Homo sapiens: one gene and its partners. The protein of the gene in region 4 interacts with the protein of the main gene of each other region in a pairwise test. Each region holds a gene or a part of one and is shown on either strand. Other genes may lie near its edges.

Evidence for each region.
Region 1: the proteins of TRIM59 (region 4) and ANKRD33 interact in binary tests that used the Homo sapiens proteins (3 or more experiments, as listed by UniProt).
Region 2: the proteins of TRIM59 (region 4) and ZDHHC21 interact in binary tests that used the Homo sapiens proteins (3 or more experiments, as listed by UniProt).
Region 3: the proteins of TRIM59 (region 4) and VTI1B interact in binary tests that used the Homo sapiens proteins (3 or more experiments, as listed by UniProt).

Annotation. Positions count from the first base shown.
Region 1 is NC_000012.12:51,883,412-51,891,102, forward strand, and holds the start of ANKRD33 (photoreceptor ankyrin repeat protein), read left to right. Parts: upstream 1-4,691; 5' UTR 4,692-4,775; coding exon 4,776-4,920; coding exon of another isoform or gene 4,921-4,947; intron 4,948-5,156; coding exon 5,157-5,407; intron 5,408-5,655; coding exon 5,656-5,785; intron 5,786-5,960; coding exon 5,961-6,071; coding exon of another isoform or gene 6,072-6,169; exon of another isoform or gene 6,170-6,746; coding exon of another isoform or gene 6,747-6,748; exon of another isoform or gene 6,749-7,015; coding exon of another isoform or gene 7,016-7,078; exon of another isoform or gene 7,079-7,172; coding exon 7,173-7,691. UniProt on the Homo sapiens protein: Acts as a transcriptional repressor for CRX-activated photoreceptor gene regulation.
Region 2 is NC_000009.12:14,690,405-14,697,316, forward strand, and holds the start of ZDHHC21 (palmitoyltransferase ZDHHC21), read right to left. Parts: upstream 3,029-6,912; 5' UTR 2,825-3,028; intron 1-2,824. UniProt on the Homo sapiens protein: Palmitoyltransferase that catalyzes the addition of palmitate onto various protein substrates. Palmitoylates sex steroid hormone receptors, including ESR1, PGR and AR, thereby regulating their targeting to the plasma membrane.
Region 3 is NC_000014.9:67,650,633-67,657,662, forward strand, and holds part of VTI1B (vesicle transport through interaction with t-SNAREs homolog 1B), read right to left. Parts: intron 5,958-7,030; coding exon 5,784-5,957; intron 2,867-5,783; coding exon 2,805-2,866; intron 1,077-2,804; exon of another isoform or gene 850-1,076; coding exon 753-849; 3' UTR 289-752; coding exon of another isoform or gene 83-288; 3' UTR 1-82. Other genes in the region: ARG2 (arginase-2, mitochondrial precursor), read left to right, coding at 83-288. UniProt on the Homo sapiens protein: V-SNARE that mediates vesicle transport pathways through interactions with t-SNAREs on the target membrane. These interactions are proposed to mediate aspects of the specificity of vesicle trafficking and to promote fusion of the lipid bilayers.
Region 4 is NC_000003.12:160,446,787-160,453,993, forward strand, and holds the start of TRIM59 (tripartite motif-containing protein 59), read right to left. Parts: upstream 3,001-7,207; 5' UTR 2,931-3,000; intron 2,010-2,930; 5' UTR 1,940-2,009; intron 1-1,939. UniProt on the Homo sapiens protein: E3 ubiquitin ligase involved in different processes such as development and immune response. Serves as a negative regulator for innate immune signaling pathways by suppressing RLR-induced activation of IRF3/7 and NF-kappa-B via interaction with adapter ECSIT.

The DNA of each region.
Region 1 (7,691 bases), on a different chromosome or scaffold from region 4:
AGGTGTCAGCAGGATTGGTCTCCAGAGAGGCCTCTCTCCTTGGCTTGTAGATGGTACCTTCTGACTGTGTCCTCACGTGTCCTTTTCTTGTGCAGGCACAGAGAGAGAGAGTTCTGGTGTCTCTTCCTCTTCTTATAAGGACAACAGTTCTATTGGATTAGGGCCCTATCCTGCCCTAATAACTTCATTTAACCTTAATTACCTCCTTAAAGGCCCTGTCTCCAAACACAGTCATTTTTGGTGTCAGGGCTTCAATATATGAATTGGGGTTGGTTGAGGGAGACACAATTTAGTCTATAACAGATTATTTCTTCAATATTATAAAAGTGAATTCCAGATGAATTAAAGACTAAATATTAAAAATAAAACTGCAAGATTAATAAAAGAAATGAAGATCTTTGTGATCTTGGAGTAGAAAATTCTTAGTAAACAAGACCCTGAACACAAAGTATAAGGAGAAATTCTGGTGAATTTAACCATATCAAAATTCAGGAGCTATTTCAATGAAGGTCACCATAGATAAAGCTAACAGAAGGGTTTATATAGTACAGTTGCCTCATCTATAACCCATCTGACAATGGCTTTATTATCTAGAATATTAAAAGAATTCCTGAAAAATCAATAAGAAAAGGATAGGAAAATTCAATAGAATACTGAGCAAAGGCCATGAACAGTCAATTCACAGGAGGGAAAACAAGATTGGCCAGCAGGGCATGTGGAGAGATGCTCACCTTGTTGATAATCAGAAAAATTCAATGTAAAATAGCAATATCGCTTTATAGTTCTATCAGATTGACAAACATTAGAAGGCTGAATAATGACATGTGTTGTCTAAGACGTAGGGAGACTCTTATGCACTGCTGGTAGGCACACATGGTGAAACAGAGTGCAACCTGAGTATCCACTCAGTAAGTGTGTATGTGCCCTGTGATCTAGTGATCTCAGAGACCCCGATGGGTCCACAACTAGATACGTATGAGGGTGTTCACTTTGGCATTATTTATAGTGACAGGAAGTTGGAGGCAACCTAAGCATCTATTGCAGGAAGAAGGGATAGGCTAAATGAGGTGGATGCACACTATGGAATTCTATAAGCAGGAAGAAAGAGGGAAGAAAGAGGGAAGAAAGAAAGAAAAAAAGTGGTGCACTCTACATCTTTCATCAAGACAGTGTTAATTATAGTGAACCCCAAGTTTCTCTTCAAAGAATCAGTATGTCAGTATGTTCAGCTCTCTTATTCTTTGATTATCCATTTTAAAGTTTAGCTTCCTGGTTCTCTTCCGTTCCCTTGCTCCTGGTTTTAGTAAACAACTTTCCCTCTAGTCCTAATCAGTAGTTCACATCTGTTCTCTGGTCAGCTGCTCCATCCTGACTCATCCCGTTTATCTGCTTTGACCTGAGTCATCCCAGTCACCTGCTTTGACCTGAGTCACCCTGGTCACCTGCTCTGATCTAAGTCACCTTTAGTTCCCTGTTCCTAACTGTCCTTCCCGCCAAACTACCCACCCCGCCACTCTAACTCATATCCCTGCTCTCTTTAAAATAGCCAATCGGAATTAGCTTAGGCTGTGCGGTCCAACCCTAGCCAATAGGGGAACGCCACAGCAGTAGGGCCGTGTGTCAGGAATAAGAACTCCTTCTCCTCTCCTGTCCAGGTGTGCTCTTGCCATTGTTCCATTCACGACTCGCACCCTTCTATAGAAGTAAAAATTGCCATGCTGAGAAAATTAAATTTATGTTCGAGTGCTATTTCCTTGCAGCATTGAAAATTTATTTACAACAACAGCATGAACTTTTTTCCTAGAATCCCTATCCATCAGACTTCTGTTTGCATTTCATTGGCCAAAACTGCATTACATGATAACACCTAACTGAAAGGTAACTAGAGAGAAGGGGAGTTATGAACAGGGATTGTGTTAGATAATCAGAGATGTCTGGTTTATCATCTGATAGATTTTTTTCTAACTGCTGTATAGAATTCCATAGGGTGCATCTATCCCATTTTGCTGTGATGGCTAGAGGTTTAGCAGCCATCTTGTGCCAAGGAGGAAAAGTCAAGAGAATCCCAGAGAAGGCCCTGACAAGTTTCTTAACCAACATCAACAGTTTCCTATTCCTGAACTTTTTATCATGTATTAAAAACAAGCACCTCTTTGTTTAAGCTACATGTGTCAGAGTTCAATTGCAGACAACAGAAATAAATCTGGACCTGGTGCAGTGGCTCACGCCTATAATCCCGGCACTTTAGGGGGCCGAGGTGGGCTGATCAACTGAGGTCAGGAGTTCAAGACCTGCCTGACCAACATGGAGAAACCCCGTCTCTACTAAAAATACAAAATTAGCCGGGGTGGTGGCACATACTTGTAATCCCAGCTACTGGGGAGGCTGAGGCAGGAGAATCACTTGAACCCGTGAAGCGGAGGTTGTGGTGAGCCGAGATCGCGCCATTGCACTCCAGCCTGGGCAACAAGAGTGAAACTCTGTCTCAAAAAAAAAAAAAAAAGAAAGAAAGAAAGAAAGAAAGAAAGAAATCTGATCAGTTTAAACAGAAAGGGATGGAGAAGCAGGCTTAGGTCCAGGAACAACCCCCAGCTTTGAGAGTCACATGACCTCTGCCTGTGATTGAGAAAACAACAGTCACTACTACAGGAAGCTGATGAATCAGGAAGCTGCTCACCAGAGCCTTGCTGCTGCTGCCATGACCTGTGACAGCAAAACGGATGTCCCATGCTACGTAGCTCTGTTCCAAATTTATATCTTGCACAAGAGCAGGACGCAAACCACAGAGTCATAGCTCAAGGGAATCTGGGAAGGGTTGTTTTAGCTTTCCAACTTCTGCAGCGCAGAAGAAACACTGAAAGCAGTTTTAGATTAATGTTGAGGAGCCCGTCTATTATGGACAACATACCATTCAGCTTTTTGGTTACTAAAAACCAAATGCACATCCAACTGATACACTGCACCTAAAGCAATAAGGATGGAGCTTAAGTGAAAAAGAAAAAACTAACAGAATAAGTTCTATAGCACAATTCATAACATGTTAGTTAAAAACACATACAAGCAGAGCATGGAGGCTCATGCCTGCAATCCCAGCACTGTGGGATGCCAAGACAGGAGGATCACTTGATGCCAGGAGTTTGAGACCAGCCTGGGCAACAAAGTGAGATCCCCATCTCTACATAAAAAAGTTAGACAGGCGCGGTGGCACACACCTGTGTGCCTCCGAGAAGCTCGTAGCTTCTCGGGAGGCTGAGGTGGGAGAATCACTTAAGCCCAGGAGTTTGAGGCTGCAGTAAGCTATGATCATGCCACTCCACTCCAGCCCAGGTGACAGAGTAAGACCCTGTTTCTAAAAAGAAAAAAATAAAATAAAAACACACAAATCAGTACTATCTTTTTCAATGAAATGTACATTTTCAAGGATATACAAGTGCCAGTTGGTAAAGGGTGGAGGAGAATGGGATGTGGGGATTAAGGGTGAAAGAGAGAAACTAAAGAAAGTAAAACAAAACAAGAGAGAGGTCTTGTACAGTCTGATGATGGGAGTGATACCAATGGGGGAATATCATTGGCTCCATTTTCTACATCTGTGGACCAAGACCAATCCATCAAGCTTAATATGTAATATAAATATTAAAGAATATTTTGATAACAATTTATCATTATATTAACAGATCATTTAATTTAAATATTTCATATTTAATTTATCACACTGAAACTAATCTATTAAATTTCATACATCATAATTTCTGGCCAATCCCTCCCTCACTACTGCCTGCCGCACTTTGTGCCCCGACTGCCCACCTGCACTAGACACATAATGTCGGTACTCACAATTTCGTTTGTTTGTTTGTTTTGTTTTTTGAGAAGGAGTTTCGCTCTTGTTGCCTAGGCTGGAGAGCAATGGTGCGATCCCGGCTTACTGCAACCTCTGCCTCCCGGGTTCAAGTGATTCTCCTGCCTCAGCCTCCTGAGTAGCTGGGATTACAGGCGCCCACCACCAAGCCCAGCTAATTTTTGTATTTTTAGTAGAGACAGGGTTTTGCCATGTTAGCCAGGCTGTTCTTGAACTCCTGACCTCAGATAATCCACCCGTCTTGGAATCTCAAAGTGCTGGGATTACAGGCGTGAGCCACCCCGCCTGGCCACAATTTTTTTTTAAAAGGAGGTCTCCCTCTGTTGCCCAGGCTAGAGTTCAGTGGCGCGACATCGGTTCATTGCAGCCTCGACCTCCCGGGCTCAAGCGATCCTCCCACCTCAGCCTCCTGAGTCGCTGGGATAACAGACGTGAGCCACCGGGCCCAGCTCTATACTCATAATTTGACAATTATGTTTTTATTTCCCCAGAACCTCAAAAAATAAGTTCAGGTGACCCCCCTGGAGACCCCACCCCAGGGTCATTCTGAGAGTACCAACCCTATTTAATGAGATACCTGCATTCACTCACCCCCTCTCCCGCAACCACCCCTTCAGCAAGTCGCGCTCCACCCAATTAGGAGGGGCTTTAGGCTGGGCCTAAAAAGTTGGGCCAAGACCCCACGAGGCAGCATCTCCGCCGGCGTCCCCAAGGCTGAGAGTGGGCGCGTCCGTCAGGAGGAGTCGTCTTTGTGAGCCCGCCCCGGCGGGGAGGAGCTGCCCGGCTCAGGCCCCGCCCACCCGGAGGATCTTGGGGCTGGTCTGAGTCCGCTCCTGAGACGTGACCACCCGCCCCGCATGGGGCCCCAGTCCCAGCTGCTTGATCCGGCTCAGCCCCGAGGTGTTTGCAGCAGCTCTTTATGAAAGTCCAGCCATCTGTTACCTGCGTTGCTTCCTGGGGAGGGATAGTCCACCTGGAGGCATTCGGAGACCCAGTGATTGTGCTCCGCGGAGCCTGGGCTGTGCCCCGCGTTGACTGCCTCATAGATACCCTACGAACCCCAAGTAAGAAAAAACGACGACCCTCTCTCCGTGAGTCTCACTGGGGTGCTGACCTAGAGTGAACCCTGCTTGCTTAGGGCTCCTGACCCAGCGCTTGTCCTTTCTCAGGGTGGATGGGGCGAGACCCCTGCTGGGATAAATGTTTTCCCTGGGGCAAGGGCTGTGCACTTCGCAGCTGCTGGGTCCCCTCCCTAGGATCCAGGGAGACACTCACTACTCCTCTCCATTCTGTGTTTTAGATGCCAGCTGCATGAGAAAAGGGACTCACCTTCTGGTTCCCTGCCTGGAAGAGGAAGAGCTGGCATTGCACAGGAGACGGCTGGACATGTCTGAGGCACTGCCCTGCCCGGGCAAGGAGACCCCCACCCCAGGCTGCAGGCTGGGGGCCCTGTATTGGGCCTGTGTCCACAATGATCCCACCCAGCTCCAAGCCATACTGGATGGTGGGGTCTCCCCAGAGGAGGCCACCCAGGTGGACAGCAATGGGAGGGTGAGATGTCCTGGCTTCCCAGAACAGCTGGGGGCATCTTTGCATCCCCACCACACCGTCCTGGCCTGGCTCCCTGAGAGGGGTTCAGGGGCAATACCTCCTGCAGTCCTAAGGAGGAAGGGAATGGTTAAGGGCGGGTCTTCACGGGGTTTGGGGCAGGCTCTGGGACAGATATGGGTTTAGAGGGTGCAAGGGGCCCTGGAGTGGCCCAGGGGGAAAGCAGGGGATCTGAGCTGCCCCTCCCTCAGACAGGCCTCATGGTCGCATGCTACCACGGCTTCCAGAGTGTTGTGGCCCTGCTCAGCCACTGTCCTTTCCTTGATGTGAACCAGCAGGACAAAGGAGGGGACACGGCCCTCATGTTGGCTGCCCAAGCAGGTGTGAGGCTGCTGCACCCCACTTCCGACAGCCCCCTTTTGATGCAGACAGGGCCTCAGCCCCACCCTTGTTGCACGGTGTTCTACACCAGACTCTGTCATGCTGGGTGGAGGGCGGTTTGGGAGCTTCATCACCCCCTTTCCTGGGGACCAAGCTTACCCTTGCTGCCCTGCAGGCCACGTGCCTCTAGTGAGTCTCCTGCTCAACTACTATGTGGGCCTGGACCTGGAACGCCGGGACCAGCGGGGGCTCACGGCGTTAATGAAGGCTGCCATGCGGAACCGCTGTGAGTGCGTGGCCACCCTCCTCATGGCAGGTGTGCGGGGCCTGGACCGGGGTGTGTGGCCTCCAGTCCCTCCTCCAAGCCTTCCCACCAGACACTAAGTCAGCTGTGATTATTTGCAGAAAGGAGAGAGGTGGAGATGGGGGATCAATCTAGTTCACCTTCCTGGAGGGGGGGGCACATGATTTGGGCTTCGTACAATCAACCAAGTCCTGCTATTGATAGCTCAGACATTGTGTGTGGAGGTCCCAGGAAGGAAAGTGTGGGAGGGGAACCTAGCCCAGCTGGAAAATCTAACACGAAAAAAGGCTGGCATCTGGAACCAGCCCCTGTTCCTAGCTGAGTGGCTTCCCTCTTTGGGCCTCACCAGTATTGTGAGGGTGTTAGCTTTCCCTGGGACTACCTCCAACTCTGACAAGCCAGGCTTCCAGGGGATCCAGGGAAGTGTCGTTGAGGCCTGTGGCTCTGTGGGGTCGTTCAGGGGGAGGTGCGGTGAAGTCCACATTGTCCATGGAGTTGTTTGGGGGCCCTTCTTCCCCGCAGTGGGGCTGCCCTCTGCTGGTCACTCTGGGGGACCCCTGCCTCCATTTTTCCCTTCCCCACACACCCCACTGGGTTTGGAGTGAAAAAGGAGTGAATGAAAAAGGAGGGCGCTCTACACCCTTTCTTTTGTCTTAGAGTGACTGCTCCTCCCACAACCCCAAGATGGGAGAGGGAGATGGTGAGAAGAGAAGAACCAGGAGAGGGAACCAGCCGATCATCCCCACCCACCTGCCCCAGAGGGTGCAGCTCAGGCCTCTGCCTGTCCTGGGCAGCCTGCACCGCTGCTCTGCTCAGCTCCTTGGATTGAGGAGATCCCTATTCTGCCCTAGGTGGAGCCCCACAATAGGTCTCTCTGAAGTCTTTTCCCCTCTCTGGACCTAAGTGTCTTAATCTCTCTTAAACAGGAGGTTGCAACACTGGCCTCCCTGATTCCACCTTCAACAGGATGGGACTCTATGGCTTCGAATGTAACCCACATCAGTCTTGCTCCTAAAGAATCTGCCCTTCCACAAATCACCAACCCCTATCCCGCCCCATGTCACCCCCTGTGCTCCTTCCCAGGTGCTGACCTGACAGCAGTGGACCCTGTTCGGGGCAAGACGGCCCTGGAATGGGCAGTGCTGACCGACAGCTTCGACACCGTGTGGAGGATTCGGCAGCTGCTGAGGCGGCCCCAAGTGGAGCAGCTTAGCCAGCACTACAAGCCCGAGTGGCCGGCCTTGTCCGGGCTCGTGGCCCAGGCCCAGGCCCAGGCCCAGGTTGCCCCTTCACTCCTAGAACGGCTGCAGGCTACCTTGAGCCTCCCCTTTGCCCCGTCTCCTCAGGAGGGGGGTGTTCTGGACCACCTTGTGACTGCCACAACCAGCCTGGCCAGTCCCTTCGTCACCACTGCCTGCCACACTCTGTGCCCTGACCATCCACCTTCGCTGGGCACCCGAAGCAAGTCCGTGCCAGAGCTGTTAGGTACTGCCCCGCCCCCTCCCCTGGTTCCCCAGTCCCCGCCAGGGAGTCCCCAGAGGTCCCCGTGGGTCTTCGTCCCCTACCAGAGCCCTCAGGGCATATTGAGCAAGTGCCTTCAGT
Region 2 (6,912 bases), on a different chromosome or scaffold from region 4:
GCTTAAAATCAGAAGCTTGGTTGACATCACACTTGAGCATTTTAGGTTAGATTTAAAATAAAATTCACCAGTGAATGGTAAAATATCAATTTTACCCAACCTGCCCTTTTGTAGAAGGGGCAACACATCGGTTAAGAGAGTCTCTGAAATGGGGAAGAAGGTTAATCTACCCTGAGAGAAATAGCACAGAGGAAAAAGCAGCTTGAAAGGCAGAAGGCAAACTTCAAAAATGTCACAATTTTGCCTAGGTTAGGTCTAAAGAGCAAAACAAACACATAAAGTACCATCATACTAAGGTATTTTTGTTCAGGGACCTATCAATGAGCACAGTGATGATTCACATGTCTATGAAAATGTGCTTTTTAAACTAGTCTGACTTGACTTATCAAGAATTCTTAACAAATCACTTTCAACAATAAAAACTGTTTTACAATTTCACCTGTATTTTTACCTTTAATAAGAGTTATTTAAGCACTGATTATTCTACTAGATGCTAAATTGCCTATTATATTTAATGCATGTGAAAAGTTGAATCTGAGCCCTAATGTTTTACTAAAACAACATAAAAGGTTACATTCCTTAATATAAAAGTAAAACTGAATTTAGGGAACAAACTCTTGGCAATAAAAACAGCCTTTCCTCTGCCTTCCCTCTTTTGCCTGGTAGTATTGATACTGCCACTGTGTCACCTCCTATGCTAAAAAAGTTTTCACTGAGTCACATTCAATTACAATTCCAGAAAAACAGCTCCATGTTGAGACATTACTCAACTTCTCAAGCAGTTTCTTTACTAAACCACTATATAATAAGACTAGCAGGAGGACAAACAATAAACTGCTCCTTTATTGACCTTCTCACTCCTCTCCTCTCAACCCAAAGAGGTTTTCGGGAAAATGGCTTATGGATGGCAGCAGTTTGCACTTGTTACTATTCACTATAACAGGTCCCTGGATTGTAACTGCAGAGACCATTTGAGTTACGGTCTTTTTCAAGCTATATGTGGGTCACATTTTATAAAACCATTATTTTATTCATGCATTTTTCCACAGGTTCTGAATCGGTCATTACGAATTAAAGAAATGAGGCAGTAGGCAAATAAGAAGTACATGTTATGATTCATTGATTCTTGTCTCAGAACTTCCTGTTAAGCTGATTATATGTCTGCATTTTTAAATGCTTAGATTTCTCTTATTAAACAAAGTACCTCGTAGGCAAAAGTGACACGGTCCTCATCATTTTCTTTAAATGACGCTCTATTTCATTTATTCCAACTACAGCTTCTCAAGTATGTTAACAGAAATCTCAGTAGTGTCAAAGGATCTAATAGAATTGTTTCCATCGAAAATGATGAATTCTGGAAGAGTACTACACCAAAACAATTATGGAATTATACATTTTAACTTATATTTTCATATTTTACTAATACTTCGTATATGTTTTTAATGTACCTTCAAACCACGTTAAAGGGTCTTATTTAAAAACATTTTCCAAGTAAGCATGGAAAAGCTAAAATAAGCCTTAAATAATTTAGTCTGGCTCTCTGATGGTATAGAGAAAATAACATGGGTCATTGCCCTACCTGTAAACCCACAGCTGGATAGTGACAGAAATGGGACTAGAATCTAGTTTTTCTTTCCACGACACCAAATCTCATTTGGCTCTTTCTTTCCAGTGGATTTCTCACCTCAATTCTTCAAATATCTTTTTGCTTTTAAGAGATGGCACAAACTAAGGAAAAACAGAGCATCTCTCCGAATTTTACCTTTAAAATAAGTAAAATCTAAAGAGTTGGAAGAATTTAATATTACACCAAAAGCCTTTTAATCCAGGAATGGCGCATACTAAGCAGTCATCAAATGGTGACTGTTATTAATATTATTCTTACCACAAGGAAAGCAGTGAATTTTTAAAAGTGCATATATTAGCATAGTAGGCTGAGGACCTATTTAACACATCTTTTTAAATTGCACTTAATTATCCTTAGTCGCCTTTGGACTGTAACTTTACAATATAATTTATGACCCGCCCACAATGACCTTGATTTTTTTTTCTCTTCTACTTTTAGAGACTGCTATATTGCAATATTTTAAAGTAATAATTGGTCATGTCCTCTCAGCCCTGGTGATACAGACATCCACCCTGACTCTCAAGGGATCTTAAAATGTGACCCACATATAGCTTGAAAAAGACCGTAACTTAAATGGACTCTGCAGTTACAATCCAGCGACCTGTTACAGTGAACAGTAACAAGTGCAAACTGCTGCCATCCATAAGCCATTTTCCGAAAACCTCTTTGGATCAAGAGGAGAGGAGTGAGAAGGTCAATAAAGGAGCAAACTGTTTGTCCTCTCTGCAGCTTCACACCAGAAGTCTGGAATGAATGAAAAGCTCTGGAATAGCACAGAGAAACCCGGGATCCCAGTGCAGGTCTCCAGACGGGGGTGCGGGGAGAGAAACTGTAGTTTACAAGCGAGAAACTCAGGATACAGATTTAAAATAAATAAATAAATAACTAGCCAACATCGTCTCGACTAGAGCAGGAACCCCCCACCCCCAGTTGAGGGAGGAGCACTTAGCAAGGGGCTGTAGCTCTAGCAGAAGACGCTCTGAAAAAGGCCAGGCCTGGGGCGGGGAGGCACCGAGAAACCCCCGGGTTCCAAACAGAGCAGGTGCAGGGGGCGTGCAGGAACAGGTGAGGGCGTCCCGGCGCGGAGGAGCGGCGGGCGGGCCCGGCAGAGCGGAGCGGGGGCCGGGGATGGGGGTGGGGGTGCGGATGGGGATGGGGGTGGGGGCGGCCGCTTCGCCCCCGCGCCTGCACACTCACCGTCGCCGCTGGCTCGCCTCTCGCTGCCGCCGCTCTCCCGACCGCCAGCAGCTCTTTCCCCTCCTCCTGCCGCGCCACCTCCGCCTCCTCCGGCGCCGCCGCCCAGGCCGGGCCGCTCTCCCCTTCCGCTTCCGGGAGCCTGAGGGCCTGGACCGGCCGAGTGGGTGTCCGCATGCCCGCGCGCCCGCGTGGGGAGGGACGACTGCCGCCGTCGCCGTCTCGCTTAGCTCCCGGGAGCCGCGATGGGAGCCGCTGAGGGCCGAAACTCCTGCAATCGCGCCGCAGCCCCAGAGCCGCGGACCCAGGCAGACCGCACTCTCCAGAGCGCTTGCACCTGGCGCGCCTGGGCGCCTCTGCCCCTCCCCAGCCCTACTTGAGCCGTCCTTCTCATTGTCCCCATATCCTCACTGCTCACCTCTCCCGAGAGACAGGATGGGGGCCTTAGCTTAAAAGATTGCATGTATCCTTTCTTCGGGGGATGTGGCCAGCAGGCCTCTCTCCCCGCAGGTGTTCTGGGATGTCCCATGGTACCTTGCTTCAAAGCGCGGTCTGCAGCATCAGCATCCTCTGGGAACTCACAATCTTTGAAATGCACAATTTCAGGCCTGCTGAATCAGTACATGCACTTCAGCAAGATCACCAGGTGACTCCTGGGGTGCACCGTAAAGATGGAAAAGCATTGCACTGTAGTGCATGGTCTCGTCCACTTCAGACCCTCTATTGGGTTGCCTCAGACATCCCAGGATATTTCCTGTTCCTGTCCTCAACCTAAATCCACACCCAAACAATCTTTTCTTATATTTTGGGAGACCTCCAAAAGTTTCCTGCTTTCCCATCCCTGCAAAAGCCGACAACTTTTGGACTCAGCGATGCAAGTAATCCACCTCTCAGTCTAACTTGGTATCTTCACCAAACACCAGAGATCTACTAACTTTCCCACCTCACTCCGGCTGAACAGTATTTGGGGAAGGTTAAACCGTTTGCAGTAATGTGGAGCTAGATCTTTCTGCCCACGTGCCACAGGAGGAGACAGTGTGTTGGTGGAAGAAATATTACCTGTTGTATAAAATCTGTATTCCTTATAAGATGTGCTTAAAAGCCCTCCACAGACACATCCCTACCTACCTCTCCAGTCTTAGCTCCAACTAATTTGGTTCATTTCCCCATTCTAGAATGCCCTGCTCTCTGATGATCTTAACCCTATCCAGATTTGAGAGTGGAAATCTTGCCAAACCAGAGTTCTCTCACCACTGCCCTTATATAGTGCACATTGTTGCCTGTTTGGGGCCTCATATTACCTTGTATTGCTAAGGATTTTTAAACATGTTGTGTCCTGGTTTCTGAACTAATTATAAACACCTTGTGACCTTAAAAACTTTGGTCAGTGGTTATCAAAGTGGGATCCCTAGACCAGCAGCATCGGTATCACCTGTCAACTTGTGAGAAATCCATATTCTTTTGCCCCATCCCAGATCTACTGTAGTAGAAACTGTTTAGGTGTAGCCCAGCAATCCGTGATGTAACAAGCCTTTTAGGTGATCCTAATACACACTCAAGTTTTAGAATTACTGACCTAGATTACTAGATATTCCCAAAAGAACCCAGTGGTAGGAATTGATTTACCCATAAGCAGATTTTATTGCCTTTCAGGTTAACAAATACACTCCCCGATATATGCATAGCGAGGTTGAAAGACTAGTCACGATTGCTTTTGATAGAATTACCTTTATTTTTCATAAATCATTTGATGTAGTAGGATTTTTGTAACTTTCTCTGTTTGAAAAGAAGGAGATATTTCATATAAACAATCACTTTGAAGGAAGAGGAAATGTGGAATCCTCCCACCGGAATCCAGCTACCTGATTGCGTATTCAATGTGAATCCCTTCTACCCAAATCCAGCTACCTGATTGCATATTAAATGTGGACTCCTCCCTACCCGAATCCAGCTACCAGAATTGCATATTAAATGTAAAATCCCCCCCCCACCCAAATCCAGCTACCCAATTGCATATTAAAAGTAGAATCCCCTCCACCTGAATCCAGCTACATGAATTGCATATTATTTTGCTTTCTCTTCAGATACCCCTGTGAGAGGGAATAATTTGTGACAAGTGATCTCAAAACTGCCAAAATAAGAATTAGTTGACAGGTCCATGATTGCACATGACAATTGGAAGTGCATGGATTTTTCAGTCCCTTTTTAAAATAAGTTAGCCTGTCTTTTATCAGCCAAATCAATTCCACAGAGAATTTTTAAGCAAGGGAATAGGAGAGAAGAGGCAGGAGAAACATCCTTAAAAACATGAACCTTTTTAGCATGGGCATTTCATGAGTATAATCAAAGGCCTGCCTATCCCTTACACTGAAGGTCAAGTCATCTGGTTCTATCATTCATGCTAATCATTGGTTATATTGTATTGCAACCCATACATTCAGGCACCTGGGTAACAATAAGGGGGTGAGGGAGATGTGGCATCAGGTAATCTTTTGAAAAGATTTTCTATTTACTGGGTATATTATGGAAAGACGATATAGATCGTACCATATTTTTTCCCTCCAGAATTCTAATCTACTTCATGGGGCCTGGGACAAACTGAAATGTGATTATTAATCAAACTAATATTTATCTGGAAGTAGAAAAAGTAGACAAGGACAAGTAGCATTGCTGCCACTGCCAACCAAGCTTCTAACAAAGGCACACTCAGGGCATTTATGAGGGTAAACACAGCCAACTCCTGTGCTTCTGTGCCGTGACTAGGGAGGATCTGGATTTTAGTGCAATTTCCAAAAATCAGTGCAGTCCAGAGTTTAATCAGTACTGGCTAATAGCCCTTGGCAGCTTTGGATGGATGGCATTCTCCACCTGCCCAGCTGGGTACCATGCCTTAAGCACCCATATTTGATGCACATTCATGATTTCTTGGTTGCCTATAGTTGTCTCTCCCATCTGTTTGAGTGGCAGAGTGCCTGTGCCATAACAATCTAATATTCTAAAAGTTGTTCTTAACCTCTTCTCTTTTGGGTTACACATCTCTTTGAGTATCTGATGAAAGTTGTGGACCCCAGCAAAGTACACATATACACAAATACACACACACACACACACACACACACATATATACACACACACATACAGGAACATATATATTTATATATATGAAATTTATATATATGAAGTTTCACAAGTTGCCCCACCTTCCTATGCCTCCAAAGGATCACAGCGAAGCCAGGAACTTCAGGCTAAGAAATATCCCTAGAATGTAGAGAGTAGGTAAAATAAACATTTTTCCCCAAATATCAAGGAAAACTGCAAAACAAACAAACAAAAACGACTGTGTGCTTAGGAGAAAAAAACAATAGCAGTGCTAAACAGAGTTACAAGGAAAGTTTTATGGAAGTGCTAATGAAGAAACTAGTAATTTCCATGGGATAGTTCAAGGGTGGCTTCTTGGAGAATGGTTCCTGTATCAGGCAAGTGAGAATAGGATTTTGATTGGGGGAAAGGAGGGAAAGAAATTTCAGGACAGAGGAAAGTGTAAGCAAAAACATAGAGAAATGAAAGTGCAAGAATCCCTCTGGTGTGGCTCAAAGGTAGGATACATGGAAAGAGAGAGGGCTGGAAATGTGGAACAGATTCCAAGCATGGTGAGCCTCAGAAACAATGCTATTCCCAATGAAGAGTCCTTAGGCTTTTGGCAAAAGGTGATGACCTGCTCCAAGCTGGAAAAGACTATTAGTGAGGGCAGTGGTATTATCAAAAGGCAGAGTAGTGGGGCATCTGGAAAGGTTCTAAGTATACTACATTGGAACCTGTTAGGCCACATTGCTTTACCTCAACTTTGGATTGTTTGATGGTGGCTCTAGAAGTTTCTATTCAATTAAATCATGATGAACCTGAGATTCTTACACTTGGTTAAGTGCTAGTAGGAAAACGCATCCTAGTGAATGTTCTGATGAGTTGAGTCTAGGATGCTGAAAGAGTTAAAATCTCTTTTGGATTAAAAGAGTGAGAATCAATTTGGACTGAAAAGAGAAAAGAAGCCCTGCCACTAATCAGACAAGGAGGACAGACACAGATAAAGCCAG
Region 3 (7,030 bases), on a different chromosome or scaffold from region 4:
GTTCTCCCTGTCCCAGTGGGATGACCCTCACTGAGAGTAGCAGCAAGGGAACCTGAGGTTTTGTCACACTTTGTTCTTCCAGGGTTGCTATCAGCACTGGATCTTGTTGAAGTCAATCCTCAGTTGGCCACCTCAGAGGAAGAGGCGAAGACTACAGCTAACCTGGCAGTAGATGTGATTGCTTCAAGCTTTGGTCAGACAAGAGAAGGAGGGCATATTGTCTATGACCAACTTCCTACTCCCAGTTCACCAGATGAATCAGAAAATCAAGCACGTGTGAGAATTTAGGAGACACTGTGCACTGACATGTTTCACAACAGGCATTCCAGAATTATGAGGCATTGAGGGGATAGATGAATACTAAATGGTTGTCTGGGTCAATACTGCCTTAATGAGAACATTTACACATTCTCACAATTGTAAAGTTTCCCCTCTATTTTGGTGACCAATACTACTGTAAATGTATTTGGTTTTTTGCAGTTCACAGGGTATTAATATGCTACAGTACTATGTAAATTTAAAGAAGTCATAAACAGCATTTATTACCTTGGTATATCATACTGGTCTTGTTGCTGTTGTTCCTTCACATTTAAGTGGTTTTTCATCTTTCCTCCCTCCTCCCACAGCCTGGCTATACAGTGCATCCTTGAACTGTCAGCCCACAGCAGCAATATGCTTATTCTATCCACATCCCTAACATCATGCATTCACAAGGTCAAAGTTCTGGTCCACAAACCCTTCCCTATAGAAGTTCAATGGCTGCGAAAGAATTTGTAGTAAACCAGGCCTCCCAGGATGGCGAGCTCCAGTAAGATGATAATGGAAAGCAGCAGCTTGTTGGTTGTCACTCTACAAAGAGAAGCAAAGTGGGGAGTAGTCAGAAGTTTGGATAACCTTCCTTCTAAACATTTTGGGGTTAGACCTGGGACCACGGCTGGATACTCTGAGGCTGTATGTTTGATCACACAGCCACTTAGCAGGAAGTACTCATAAGGTTCTTTAGCTGTCACTTAGGGATAACACTGTCTACCTCACAGAAATGTTAAACTGAGACAATAAAAACCAAAGCATAAAAATGGATTCTGAAATGTTGTTCAAATAGTAGTTACTTCCTTTAAAAATAGCTTTTCTAGAAAGAAGGGTTAGCTAGAAAAAGTAATCAAATAGACATCCAGCTCAGGATGGGTCCTGCCCTAGGATAAGTAACTAGAAGCCTGGGTAATACCTTTCAATCCCTTGTAAACTTCTTCCCTCTGCCCTATTTTTCCCTTTGCTCTCCTATCAACCCAAATGGGTATGTTATAAAGGTAGTATAGGAGCTTAAAAATTTTCCTATCTGTTGTTTACATAAAGAATCCAACCTCTGGTTCTCATGTTCACTCTAGGTTTCTCCCTAGTCCACAAGGAATTTATCACTGTAGGAAAATCCCACCCCTCCTGCTAGTTCCATGAGTGGGTTGTAGTTTTGTTTCATGCTAGGCCACCTGTGCCCAAGGTCACGTACAATACCCTCTTACCCCCAACTTCAACCTCAGTGGCAGTATTTCTGCCCTGGATTTGTTGCTGTTAGCACTCGAGGATTTTGTTTTTTATTTTTGGTAAAGACTACTGTATTGGTGGCAGTTAGTACAATTCAAATATTGTCTTCAAAGAAGGACTTATTTATTCTCTATGGACTAGGAGTCCATACAGAGCTGAATGAAACTGAATCAAGTCACTGCTGTGATGACTGAAGTCAATCCCATTTCTTGGGAAATGAAACCACAGCCAGCTGATGCATGGCATATGCTGTTTCACTAACTGAGAACCATGGTGGCTCTATACAGGAGGTCATCAGCTCTACCACCCTTTAGATGCACTGGAATTCCATTCTTCTCCTGAAACAGCTTGTGTTTTCTGGACCTTTATTTTCAAAATGCCTGCATGAAGCAATGCTCATGGTCCTCTGGGCAACCTGACAGTGCCAGCAGATTCTGCAGCATCTTGACTCAGTTACTGCCCAAGAACCCTGACAACTCCACAAGGGTTTTATTTTTAAAAGTCTACTTCTTCCCTACAATATAGAACTTCCAGAAAAGGAGCTGACTCCCATGAAGGGCAAGCAGAGCCAAAAGCAAGTACTATGCAAGTGAAAACTACTTTCTAATCAAGATTTTACAAATATATTTCTTTTTTTTTTGAGACGGAGTCTCGCTTTGTCCCCCAGGCTAGAGTGCAGTGGTGCCATCTCGGCTCACTGCAACCTCCACCCCCCAGGTTCAAGCAATTCTGTCTCAGCCTCCTGAGTAGCTGGGATTACAGTGCCCGCCACTACGCCTGGCTAATTTTTTTGTATTTTTAGTAGAGACGGGTTTCACCATTTGAGCCAGACTGGTCTTGAACTCCTGACCTTGTGATCTGCCCGCTTCAGCCTCCCAAGGTGCTGGGATTACAGGCATGAGCCACCGCACGGGGCTGAGATTATATAAATATATTTCAAGGAATAGGAAGCTGTTATTCCCATGTGTTGCCTTCTCTAAAGAACATCAGCTGTGATTAAATGTCCTTTCAGTGGAGAAATTTTTCACTGCTCCAAGTCAAAGCAGTATATACTTTTAACAAATGATTTTATCCTGAGTTATTTAATTATCCAAGACCATATTCCTTAGCGTCTTTATTCTGGTCTGCTGGGTGGTACTGAGTATACAGGGACTATGCGTCAACTGCTGAGGTGCTTTATGAGGACCTTTGTAAGTCACTATTTTAAGCTTTTTGGTTGAAAGCCACTGAGTTAAGAGAAATTTCATGACTTTAATAAAACTTACTTTCTGGACATTGAACGGAGAATCTTCCGACTTTTGCTCAAGTTTTCACTTGTGTTTACCAGCTGAGAAGAGAAAATAGTGATTATTTCCCTCTTTAAAAAGTATACTCTGTACAATTGAATATCCCTAGATTAACAGTAGGCATTAAGGGATATATGTTGAAAAATTCCAAGAAATCAAGCCAATTTAAATGATGGCCTTTGAGTGTAAGTAGAAGAACCTGGAAAGGACAAGATATTTTAGTACTCATCAAGTAGGCTTAAGAATCATCTTCCCAGGTTGCTGCTGGGGATGGACTCCTGAGACTGAGCTAATCTTCTACCGTGGCTACTCCAAAAGGGAAGGCTTCAAGTGTAGCCAGCAGACTGGCCAGCCAGTGACTGTAGAGCAACTTAAGATTTGAATTTCATCAGCCAAATTCCAGGACAGCCTCTTGAGTTGGCATTTGTTTTTGTAGGCTGGTCTGTTACTGCTTTTGGGATCTGGTTTTTTTCTTTACCCTCTTAAGAGACAGTTACATTGAACTGTGAAAAGAATTAACCTCCATGGAACTTTCAACTGCTTGCTACTAATCTGGACAGCTGGAGGATATTTCACCTCCAGCAGATGGCTACTTGCCATCTGTTCCCATTCCCCAGTGGCCTTGGTAAGCTGACCTCTCAGCTCGTTCCTTGGCTTTTATTTATTTGAAACAGGGTCTCACTCCGTCACTCAGGCTGGAGTGCAGTGCTGCAATCGCAGCTCACTGCAGCCTCGACCTCCCAGGCTCAAGCAATAACCCCACATGTCCCCAAGTAGCTGGGATCACAGGTGCACGCCACCACACCCTGCTCCTTTTTTTGATTTTTAGTAGAGATGAGGTCTCGCTATAGAGATGAGGTCTCGCTCTAGAGATGAGGTCTCGCTATGTTGCCCAGGCTGGTTTCAAACTCCTAGGCTCAAGCCATCCTCCCACCTCAGCCTCCCAAAGTGCTAAAATTACAGGTGTAAGCCCGGCCTCCTTGGCTTTTAAATTCAACCAATCTACCTGGTATGTTCAAAAACCAAAACCCACACAATCTGTAAGCAAGTTACATTCTCCATAGCTTGCCTTGAATGTAGTACTTTATTGTGAATTTTCACTGAAGAGGGCAGGGCATTACTCTGACTTAATGGAGAACTGAAGCTATTAAGAAAATCTACTCAAATCTTCACACTGAGCTAGTATTTTCCTGTCCAAATCTTGGCCACAGTATGTTTTTCAAATTGATTTGCCTTCTGCTATTAAGAATACAGCATTCCATTGGTAAATTGTACCAATTAAAAAATTTTGCCCGGGCGCAGTGGCTCACGCTTATAATTCTAGCACTTTGGGAGGCTGAGGCGGGCAGATCATGAGGTTAAGAGATCGAGACCATCCTTGCTAAAATGGTGAAACCCCGTCTCTACTAAAAATACGAAAAATTAGCCGGGTGTGGTGGCAGACGCCTGTAGTCCCAGCTACTCGGGAGGCCGAGGCAGGAGAATGGCATGAACCTGGGAGGCGGAGCTTGCAGCGAGCCGAGATTGCGCCACTGCACTCCAGCCTGGGCGACAGAGCAAGACTCCATCTCAAAAAAAAAAAAAAAAAAAAAAAAATTCCAGCTGGGCACAGTGGCTCATGCCTGTAATCCTAGCGCTTTGGGAGGCCAAGGTGGAATGATTGCTTGAGCCCAGGAGTTCGAGAGCAACTTTGGCAACATAATGAGACCCCGTTTTTACAAAAAATTAAAACAATTAGCCAGGCACAGTAGCACATGCCTGTATCGCAGCTACACATGAGGATCACTTGAGCCCAGGAGTTTGAAGCTACAGTAAGTTAAAATTGCACTGCTGCACTCCAGCCTGGGTGACAGAGCAAGACCCTGTCTCTAAAAAACTAAAAAATTCCTATGTAGGTTAACTCATTTATGGAAAGGAAAAAATAAATGAGTTATTTTTCTGAGGCTCTCAGAGTGACAGCAGACTAGAGATCCCTGATATAGTCATCATTTGATTTAAATATTTGTTTTCTTTCCACAATGATCCAGCTTACCTTACTGGATAATCCTTAGACATTTTTTTCCCTATTACTTTTTTTTTTTTACTTTTACTTACATAACAGTAAAGGGTTATAGTCCAGGATTGAAGCATAATTTATAAATCTATAAACTGTGGTACTATTTTATGAAATCTGGAAAACAGCCTTGGCTCTAAATAACAGGATATAAGCAGATGATGTTTTCGTAAGAATAGCAGAATACCCTATTAGATGTGTGAGAAATTAAAATCTCAGATTGGAAGCTTTGAATCCTTAAGTGCCTTTTGACATATTATTTCTCTTGCCAAAGAGAGAATGCAGCCACTTTATCCTTATTAATTTCTGTAATCTTGTAAGTGTAGAAATCAGGTCCTTCCATCTTTTTTTCCCCTCACTGAAGCAAAAATTTCCAGTGATGTCTAAATCTTAGGGGTAAAATTGCTTCTAAGGGACATCTCTCAGCCAAGCAAACTAAAAATTGAGCAAAGCGGCCGGGCACAGTGGCTCACGCCTATAATCCTAGCACTTTGGGAGGCCGGAGCAGGTGGATCACCTGAAGTTAGGAGTTCGAGACCAGCCTGGCCAACATGGCGAAACCCCATCTCTACTAAAAATACAAACATTAGCTAGGCATGGTGGCGCATGCCTGTAATCCCAGCTACTCAGGAGGCTGAGGCAAGAGAATCGCTTGAACCCAGGATGCGGAGGTTGCAGCAAGTGGAGATCACGCCACTGCACTCCAGCCTGGGTGACACAGTGAGACTCTATCTCAAAAAAAAAAAAAAAATTAATAAATAAAAATTGAGAAAAGCATAAGAACTTAAAAAAGACTATTCCCTGAATACAGAACTGCTGTAGCTTTTGGCCTTAGTACGGTTTCCAGGTGCAGTGGCCCCCTAATTACCCCATACTTGCCCCTTTCCCTGTCTGCCCAGACTTACTCTACTCTTGGTACGTTCTAACTGGTCTCGTTGTTCCCCCAGCTCTTCTATGATTTCTGAGCCAATCTGGTCAGTCTCTGTGGCAATCCGATGAGAACGTTCAATACTTTGGGTGGCCCGGTTCAGGCTTTCAGTGCCCTGCAGAAGCATTGCCCTTTGAGACTGTAGCCGATTCTGAAAGAAGTATGGAAGAGAAATGTTAGACTTTTTCCATTATAAATTCATTGCCAGCATATTCCTCATCACCTTCCCCATGTTAGAAGGGATATAGTGAGCAATAATTTTCATTCCTTTTAAGACAGAACCAAAGAAGCTAATGATTCTTTTCAAGGTCACAGACTAAAGCAGGACCTGAAATCCAATCAATAGGATCACAATACCCCCACTCCACTGCCTTTTACACTTACGCGAGGCAAGGAAAGATGGATTAAAAATACTGGAGCACTTTCCCTGTGTTTGTAATGAATCTGAACTGGTCCATGTGCCTCCTGGACTATCAACTTCTGAAAGGTGGCAGCCCAGATGTGGGAGCTACCTGATAATGCATATAGCCTGTAACTTCGATAGTGCTATGGGCAAACCAACTAAACTCTGCAGCCCTAGAAAAAGGTTAATTCACTGAAGATTCCCACTAGACTGGTACTGAGGATTGACGGACCATGAATAAGCTATTCTGTTCTTCGTTTTAAGCCTCCAGCACCTGGTATTTCCAGGTGGTCTCCCATCCAAGTACTAACCTGGCCTGACTCACTTGGCTTCTGAGATCAGGCAGGTTCAGAGTGGTATTGCCTAGATGACTACATTCTTCTTTTTCAGCTTCTAAAGAAAGCATGTAGAAGTCTGAGACACTACCACATTCTGGAAAAAACGTATGTGGTTACCCTCTTGGTGAGCCCCAGAAAGAACTTCACCTAAGGTCAAACAAAAAACCTTGAGCCTGCCACACTGGGGGTGATTTGGTCTCAGGGAAATTAGTATCTGGGGCTTGAGCAAGCTTCCCCACCTGCCCTAATTTCTCAACTGCCCTAATTTTCTAAATCCCCACCGAAGTTTTACTCCACCTGTAATCCTAAATACAGACAGCAGGAAGAAAAAAGTAGCCTTGTCAGGCCAGAATTAACAACCACTGACAGAAACGGAGGCAGCTCCAAGTTCTTAGCTGTTCAAAGCACGCGCGCGCGTGCACACACACACACACACACACACACCCAAAATCAAAAGGGACCCAGCTCACAGAGGCCTAGTAC
Region 4 (7,207 bases):
ATAACAGCGTGAACCCTACTGTGAACTGCGCACGCGAGGGATCTAGGTTGTGGCTCACTGTGAGAATCTAACTAATGCCTGATGATGTGCGGTAGAACAGTTTTATCCCAAAACCATGCACCACCCACCCCCACCCGTCCACAGAAAAATTGCCTTCCACAAGACCGGTCCCTGGTGCCAAAAAGGTTGAGGACTGCTGGTTTAATGGGTACACAGTTTCAGTTTGGGAAGATGAAAAAGTTAACGGAGATAGTTGATGGTGATAATTACAAAACAATTTGAATGTATTTAATACCACCAAACTGCATACTTAAAAAGATTAAAATGGTAAATTTTATGTTTAGCATATTTTACACAATAAAAAAAAAACTTTAAAAAATTTTCAAGCGTCTTGCCTATTATCCAGTCTTCCTTTTGCTAAATGAATTTGAATCAATTTATACTACTGTATGTTTTTAAAAAGCAAAAAAGTAAAATAATCCATGTAAAATGTATTTTCCTCTAGTGAGTACTAAGCTCATGTAAAAACCAAGTTCAAGATTTCCTGCTTCTCTTTTAAAACCGAGAAATATTAATATAAAAAAATGAATCTTCTCAGAAAGAAACCTGAGGCTAAATCACTCTACTTACAAATTATTTCACTAATGTCTAGTGTGTTTAAGTGTCAAAACAAATACATTTCTGAATTTCCAAACTTTTTATTAAGTCTTTCTCCAGAGGGCCAATTCACTAGTGAGCCTCCCTGATGTCTAACTGGCATATTAGGTAATAGACAGTATAATAGATGATTAAATAGCACCGAAAATATCATTACCCATTCTCCTGTGTAAACCAGTTTTTAAGTTTTAATTCACTAATGCTTTCCTGCCTTTCAACTCTAAACATGAACAGTTGTAAAACGTTCATTACATTTCACAACCTCTGAAAGGAAAATATATTTATTACATTATAGAATTCGATGACTTGTCCCAAGACTTCTAGTGAGTCAGCTTTAAGTATGGGAAAATTCAAGTGGTGCCACCACCCAAACTGGGGCTCACATCTTTGTGGACCTAACTGATAAAGAAGAAATACATTTCATGCAAGTCAAGACTTACTTAAGAAATAACTACAACTGCACCATTTATAAACATATATAAGATTTTTTTAACATTATCGCAGAAAGTCTGAGAAACAAGATTTTTAAAAATAATTCTGTCACATATAAATATACAAAAATAGTGAGAGATCACCTTAACTTTTTCAAATTAAAAAAATCCTATGGTCAGCTGATTTTAAATCTCTTTGTCCATCTGTACTATTTTCTTTCATTTTGATATCAACCTGTTTCCCTAAACTAAAAAATAAAAATAAAAACTAGAAACAAAACAAAAAAAGACTATTAATTCAATTTAACCGGAATTGACTTGAGAAATTAAGGCTTTAATTGCTTTTGCTGTACTTTTCAAAGTAAAAATATATCTGGTGGGAAATATTCATCAACGTGTTTAGTGAAAGGCAATGTCAAAACTAACATCACCTAAAATCAAAATTTCACCTTGCCAGATTAAATAGCTACTTACTCATTTAAAAAGACCAATACATGAATGCATAGTGAAAAAGTATCCAGGTAACTTAATTTGCAGTTTTGTGTAGTTCTGCAGATCTGTATGTATAAAATAACAACTTTGCATGTGTTTTGAGATGTACACATTCTTGTAAAATTTCTAGAAGGATGTACAAAAGAGTTAAGTGACTACTTTTAAGGTACAGATCAGAGAAGGGAGTTGTTTATTTTTCACTTTATGCTCCGCTCCTTCGATAAAATGGTTGGAGTTTTATACACCGCCAACACAATGTTTTTTCAAAAGACTTCTAAATTTCACTTTGTAGTTTAAATCATACACTCTGTAAAAACTTAATTGTTTTTCATATTTATTTAATCTCCCAGATTACCTACTTTGTTGATCTCGTGGTTTGGGGGCTGAATACACTCTTCTCCAACTCCTCCAGAATCTTTTATTCTTATTCTAAAATTAAAATAATGTTATCTTTAATGTTTTCAATTTATTGTCTCATGTCATAAAAATGGTTGTTAGTTCACTGTCTTTGATATTTATCTTCACGATGCTTCATCGTGTTTTCAGAAAAGCCACAAACACCAACACAGTTGCTGGAGCTGCAGTAGAGGTATCGCTTGTTCCTTGAAAATCCTAACTCTGACCAAACAGACTGTCACAAAGGACCTCTTTTCACAACGTCAAGTAGCTTATGAGCTCTCGACAATATTACCCAACAATGGTGATGGCAGAAAAAACATTCACGGTCATTTTAGAGTGCTTAAAATTAACTGCAAGACAAAAGCATCCATGGGAGTAAAATACCTTGCCAGCTCTAAATTATAACTGATTTAGTATAGTTTGCTCATCTCTCTGTTCTGCCATTTCAATGCTGTGGGACCTGGGTCAGTATTACCAAATACCTCTCAAAAGTGAGGCTTCACATCTGTAAAATGGGTAACTGCACCTACCTCACTTAAGTCCTGCGAGCACCTCCCACAAAGGGGCTCAAAATGGCAGTACTCTTCCCTTCCCCTTCTCAAAGCTCCACTCTCCCAGGCCTCCCTCCTAACGCGCCTCCACCTCGGCACCCGCCCGTCCCCAACCCCGCGGGACTGACCGACTCGGCGGCGTCCGCTCAGCTCACCCTCGCCACCACAGAGGGCCTCCTCCCTCACAGGAACGCAGCTCCACAGTGGAGGGACGGGAAAGTGGCTCCCCAAACTCCAGTATGGGACAAGAGGGAATGAGTGCAGGTCCCAAGCCACTCCCTCCATCGTCGCGCCCCCAGGACTCCCCGCCCAACACACTAGGCACACCAGACTGTGCTACAGGAAAAGAAAAAGGACTCAGAACCACCTTCTCCGCATCCGTAAAGGTCCTTAGACTCACCGCGGGGAGGAAGCGGACCAGGCAACTCCACAGCACGGAAACACAGCGCCACGAGCTCCAGGCGGATGCTGAGAGCCGCCCCGAGTCCCCGCCCTCCTCTGCCCCGAAGGGCTTCAGGTGCCCAGACCGGGCGGGGCCTCGCGGAGCCTCGCAGCGCAGGCGCAGTCTGCAGGCAACATTCAACTGCAAGGCATCGGCCAATGGGAACTATTGCTGGGCTCGTTCGAAAGTAAACGGTGGACGGCGCGGCCCGAGGCAGGTGGCGGGAGTCAGTTTAAGGCTGGCGCCCAGCTTTCCGCGCCTGCGTGCTAGGCGCAGGCCGCCTCTCGGAAGCTTGGCCTCGCAGGAGCGGCTCTCTATCCTGTGGGGAGCTTCGGCCAGTGGGCCTCGTGAGCTGGGGTCCCGCCTGGGGAATCCGCATGGCACCGGTGGTCTGGGGGAGAGGCTGGGCCTGGCGCGGGACGAGGCGAAGCGCCGGTGGCCGACGGCTTCTGAGGAATTATCTTTTACTTGGCGCCACACGGGGCGGGGCCTCCTGCTATGCTGTGGAGCGCAGTGTCTTCCATCGTTGCCTCACAGACCCGCTGCTCCGGGAAGTCGCCACACATTCTCAGGGAACACCCACATCTGTCGCCTGCGCCCTCCGCCGCTCAGCTGTTTGCTTTTGTTTACGCATTCCGGAGACCTGACCCACCGGAGCACTGGGCTGAGCACAGGAGAAGGGGCTTTGGAGCGCTCTTTGTACTCAACTCCAAGAGCGAGTGGGAAACTCAGGACTGGGTTGGGTAGATCCCTGCGTCTCTCCCTAGCCTTCGTCCTCTTCCCCCGTTTTTCCACTTTATGAAAGTATTGCCTAGAGATGAGGGCTGTCCAACTCAACACTTCCAACTTCAAGTTCCTACTTCACCTCTAACTCCCTAGAGTTAGAAAACAACGTACAGCTTAGAGGTTCCTTTCCCTTTTTTTCTTGAGAAACTTTATTCAGCTTTATCTCAAGACATCACCGCTTCCCTCTCCTGTCAACCTTAAATAGTGAGGTTCTGGAAATATGATTAAGGATAGAGTTTATTCCAGCGTAAGGCTTGAGGGTAGCCACCCAGGAGACACCAGCTCCAAATGGGGTTAGCATTCCAAAGTGAAGAAGTTAGGGTTTCGCCTAGGTGGCCAGAGACAAATTTTAACAGGATTTCATTTCCCCTAAGAGACCAGTGCATACTTACAGCTATTTGGTAGGTTACAGATTACTACATTCCAAGAAAAAGTATTTTGTTACTCCATGAGGGGGGGTAGTGATCTCAGGGGGTTGTATCTCTGGTATGGTTTGGTCCTCCTATTTTAATTATTTATAGAAACAAAAGGCAGACGTTGCAGATGCCTGCTGCTTGACTCAGGCTGTAGCCACATTCCTCCCAAGGCTCGGAATAAAGTTCCAACAGCTTTAAGTTTGAATTATTTAACTTCCAATAACTATAAAGTCATTTTGTTTACTAATGTGCTAAATAAAGATATGGGCTCTAGGCCAGGTGCAGTGGCCCAGGCCTGTAATCCCAGCACTTTCTGGAGGCCAAGGCAGGTGGATCACCTGAGGTCAGGAGTTCGAGACCAGCCTGGCCAACATGGTGAAACCCCGTCTCTACTAAAAATACAAAAATTAGCCGGGCATGGTGGCAGGCACCTGTCATTCCAGCTAGTTGGGAGGCTGGGGCAGGAGAATCGCTTGAACCCGGGAGGCGGAGGTTGCAGTGAGCCAAAATGGCACCACTGCATTCCAGAAAAAAAAAAAAGCTATGAGCTCTATATACTGCACATTGCAGTACATCCAGGTCCTAGGCTTTTATTCAGTAAATTACAGAAAATATTAAAGATATAAAGCAGAAAGTAAGGCAATATTAGGCCTTAGTCAATCTCAGATAGCTTCACCAATTCAGCTCCTTAAAAGGTTGCTTATGAAGTGTGAATTGTAGTGGTAGCTACTGTTTCATGGTGGTAAATATTCGTTTTGACTTTATGTACATTTTCTATTAAACATTGGAGTCATCCTGATAGACATCTTTGTAACTTCCTGTCAAAACAACATGTGGGACAGGCGTGGTGGCTCATGTGTGTAATTCCAGCACTTTGGGAGGCCAAAGTGGAAGAACTGCTTGAGCCCGGGAATTTGAGAGCAGTCTGGGCCACAAAGTGAGAACCCAGCTCTACAAAAAATAAAATAATTAGCCGGAGTGGTGGCTCACACCTGTAGTCCCAGCTACTTGGAAGACTGAGGCAGGAAGATTGCTTGAGCCCAGGAAATCAGGGCCACAGTGAGTTATGATCACACCACTGCACTCCAGCCTGGGCAGCTGAGTGAGACCCTGTCTCAAAAACAAACAAAAAAACCCAACGTATTATGAATTATTTTTCCATAGCAGTAAATGTACTATATTTCTATTAAATTATTGTCTTTAAACAAAGTTTAATTGCTTCTGGAATTGAATTAATATGGCTGAAAATGTTTCTGAGCTTTAATGTTTTTCACCTGTTTTCCCCTCTGTGCTTTCTTACCTCAAAACGGTTATGTATGTAGCAAGAAAACTGAAGAACCTCACACTAGACTTACTGGCTGTTGTTTCCCAAAAAGCCTGAGCCCATGGAGAAAAATAATATTTGAGAGACCCCGCCTGCTGGGGCGCAGGCGGCAGCGGCGTGGCCATGAAGCTGAAGGTGAAGAACGTGTTTCTCGCCTACTTCCTGGTGTCGATCGCCGGCCTCCTCTACGCGCTGGCCAGCCATGTGACTGCCTTCCTCCCCTGCGGGCAGCAGCTGAGCAGCTACGGCAGAAGGATCTGAGGATTTCCCAGCTGCAAGCGGAACTCCGACGGCCACCCCCTGCCCCTGCCCAGCCCCCTGAACCCGAGGCCCTGCCTACTATCTATGTTGTTACCCCCACCTATGCCAGGCTGGTACAGAAGGCAGAGTTGGTACGGCTGTCCCAGACACTGAGCCTGGTGCCCCGGCTGCATTGACTGCTGGTGGAGGATGCTGAGGGTCCCACCCCGCTGGTCTCAGGGCTGCTGGCTGCCTCTGGCCTCCTCTTCACACACCTGGTGGTCCTCACGCCCAAAGCCCAGCGGCTTCGGGAGGGCAAGCCTGGCTGGGTTCATCCCCATGGTGTCGAGCAGCGGAACAAGGCCCTGGACTGGCTCCGGGGCAGAGGGAGTGCTGTGGGTGGGAAGAAGGACCCATCACCACCAGGGACCCAAGGAGTCGTGTACTTTGCTGACAGTGGCAACACCTACAGCTGGGAGCTGTTTGAGGAGATGCGCTGGACCCGTGGTGTCTCAGTGTGGCCTGTGGGGCTGGTGGGTGGCCTGCGAGTCAAGGGCCCTCAGGTACAGGACAGCCGGGTAGTGGGCTTCCACACAGCATGGGAGCCCAACGGGCCCTTCCCTGTGGATATGGCCGGATTTGCTGTGGCCCTGCCCTTGCTGTTAGCTAAGCCCAATGCCCAGTTTGATTCCACTGCTCCCCGGAGCCACCTGGAGAGCAGTCTTCTAAGCCACCTTGTGGATCCCAAGGACCTGGAGCCACGGGCTGCCAACTGCACTCGGGTACTGGTGTGACATACACGGACAGCGAAGCCCAAGATGAAGCAGAAGGAGCAGCTGCAGCGGCAGGGCCAGGGCTCAGACCCAGCAATTGAGGTGTGATGGCGGCCCCACCCCAACTACCACCTCTTTTCAGGCACAGACCTTGTGGGACTGGGCCCCAGGCCTGCCCAGCATGTGGTTTTCCAAGTCCTGACCGCTTGAAGCCAGAAGTGGCCCCTCTGCCCCTCCAGACCCAGGGCATGGTCCTGCTGCTTCATCTCTCCCCCAGCCTGCCATGTGGCACTGCCCACAGGCTGGGGACAAGCAGCCCTTGTATTGAGCCAGGTTGGCCCTGTCTAGGGTGGAACAGAAGGACAGACGGACCCAGGAGGGAGGGCAGCTGATTAACTGGGTAACTTATTGGGGCTGGGCAAGCACTGGGGGGCTGGAGGAGCTGGGCTGGACCCTCCCTACCTGAGCATGCTGACCCCCTTCCTACCTCCAGAATAAAGAATCTCAACCTGAAAAAAAAGAAAAAATATTTGAAGGAAGAGGCCGAATGCTTGAGAGAAGCAGAAAGAATTGTTTGCCCCTAAAATAGAGATGATTCGGGTCCTAGTGGGGGAAAACTATGACACCAAAAGGGAAGGGTTATATTGGTGCCTCCAGGGAGTCTGCTTTAGAGGCCCATGGGTTCCCAACCCTGCC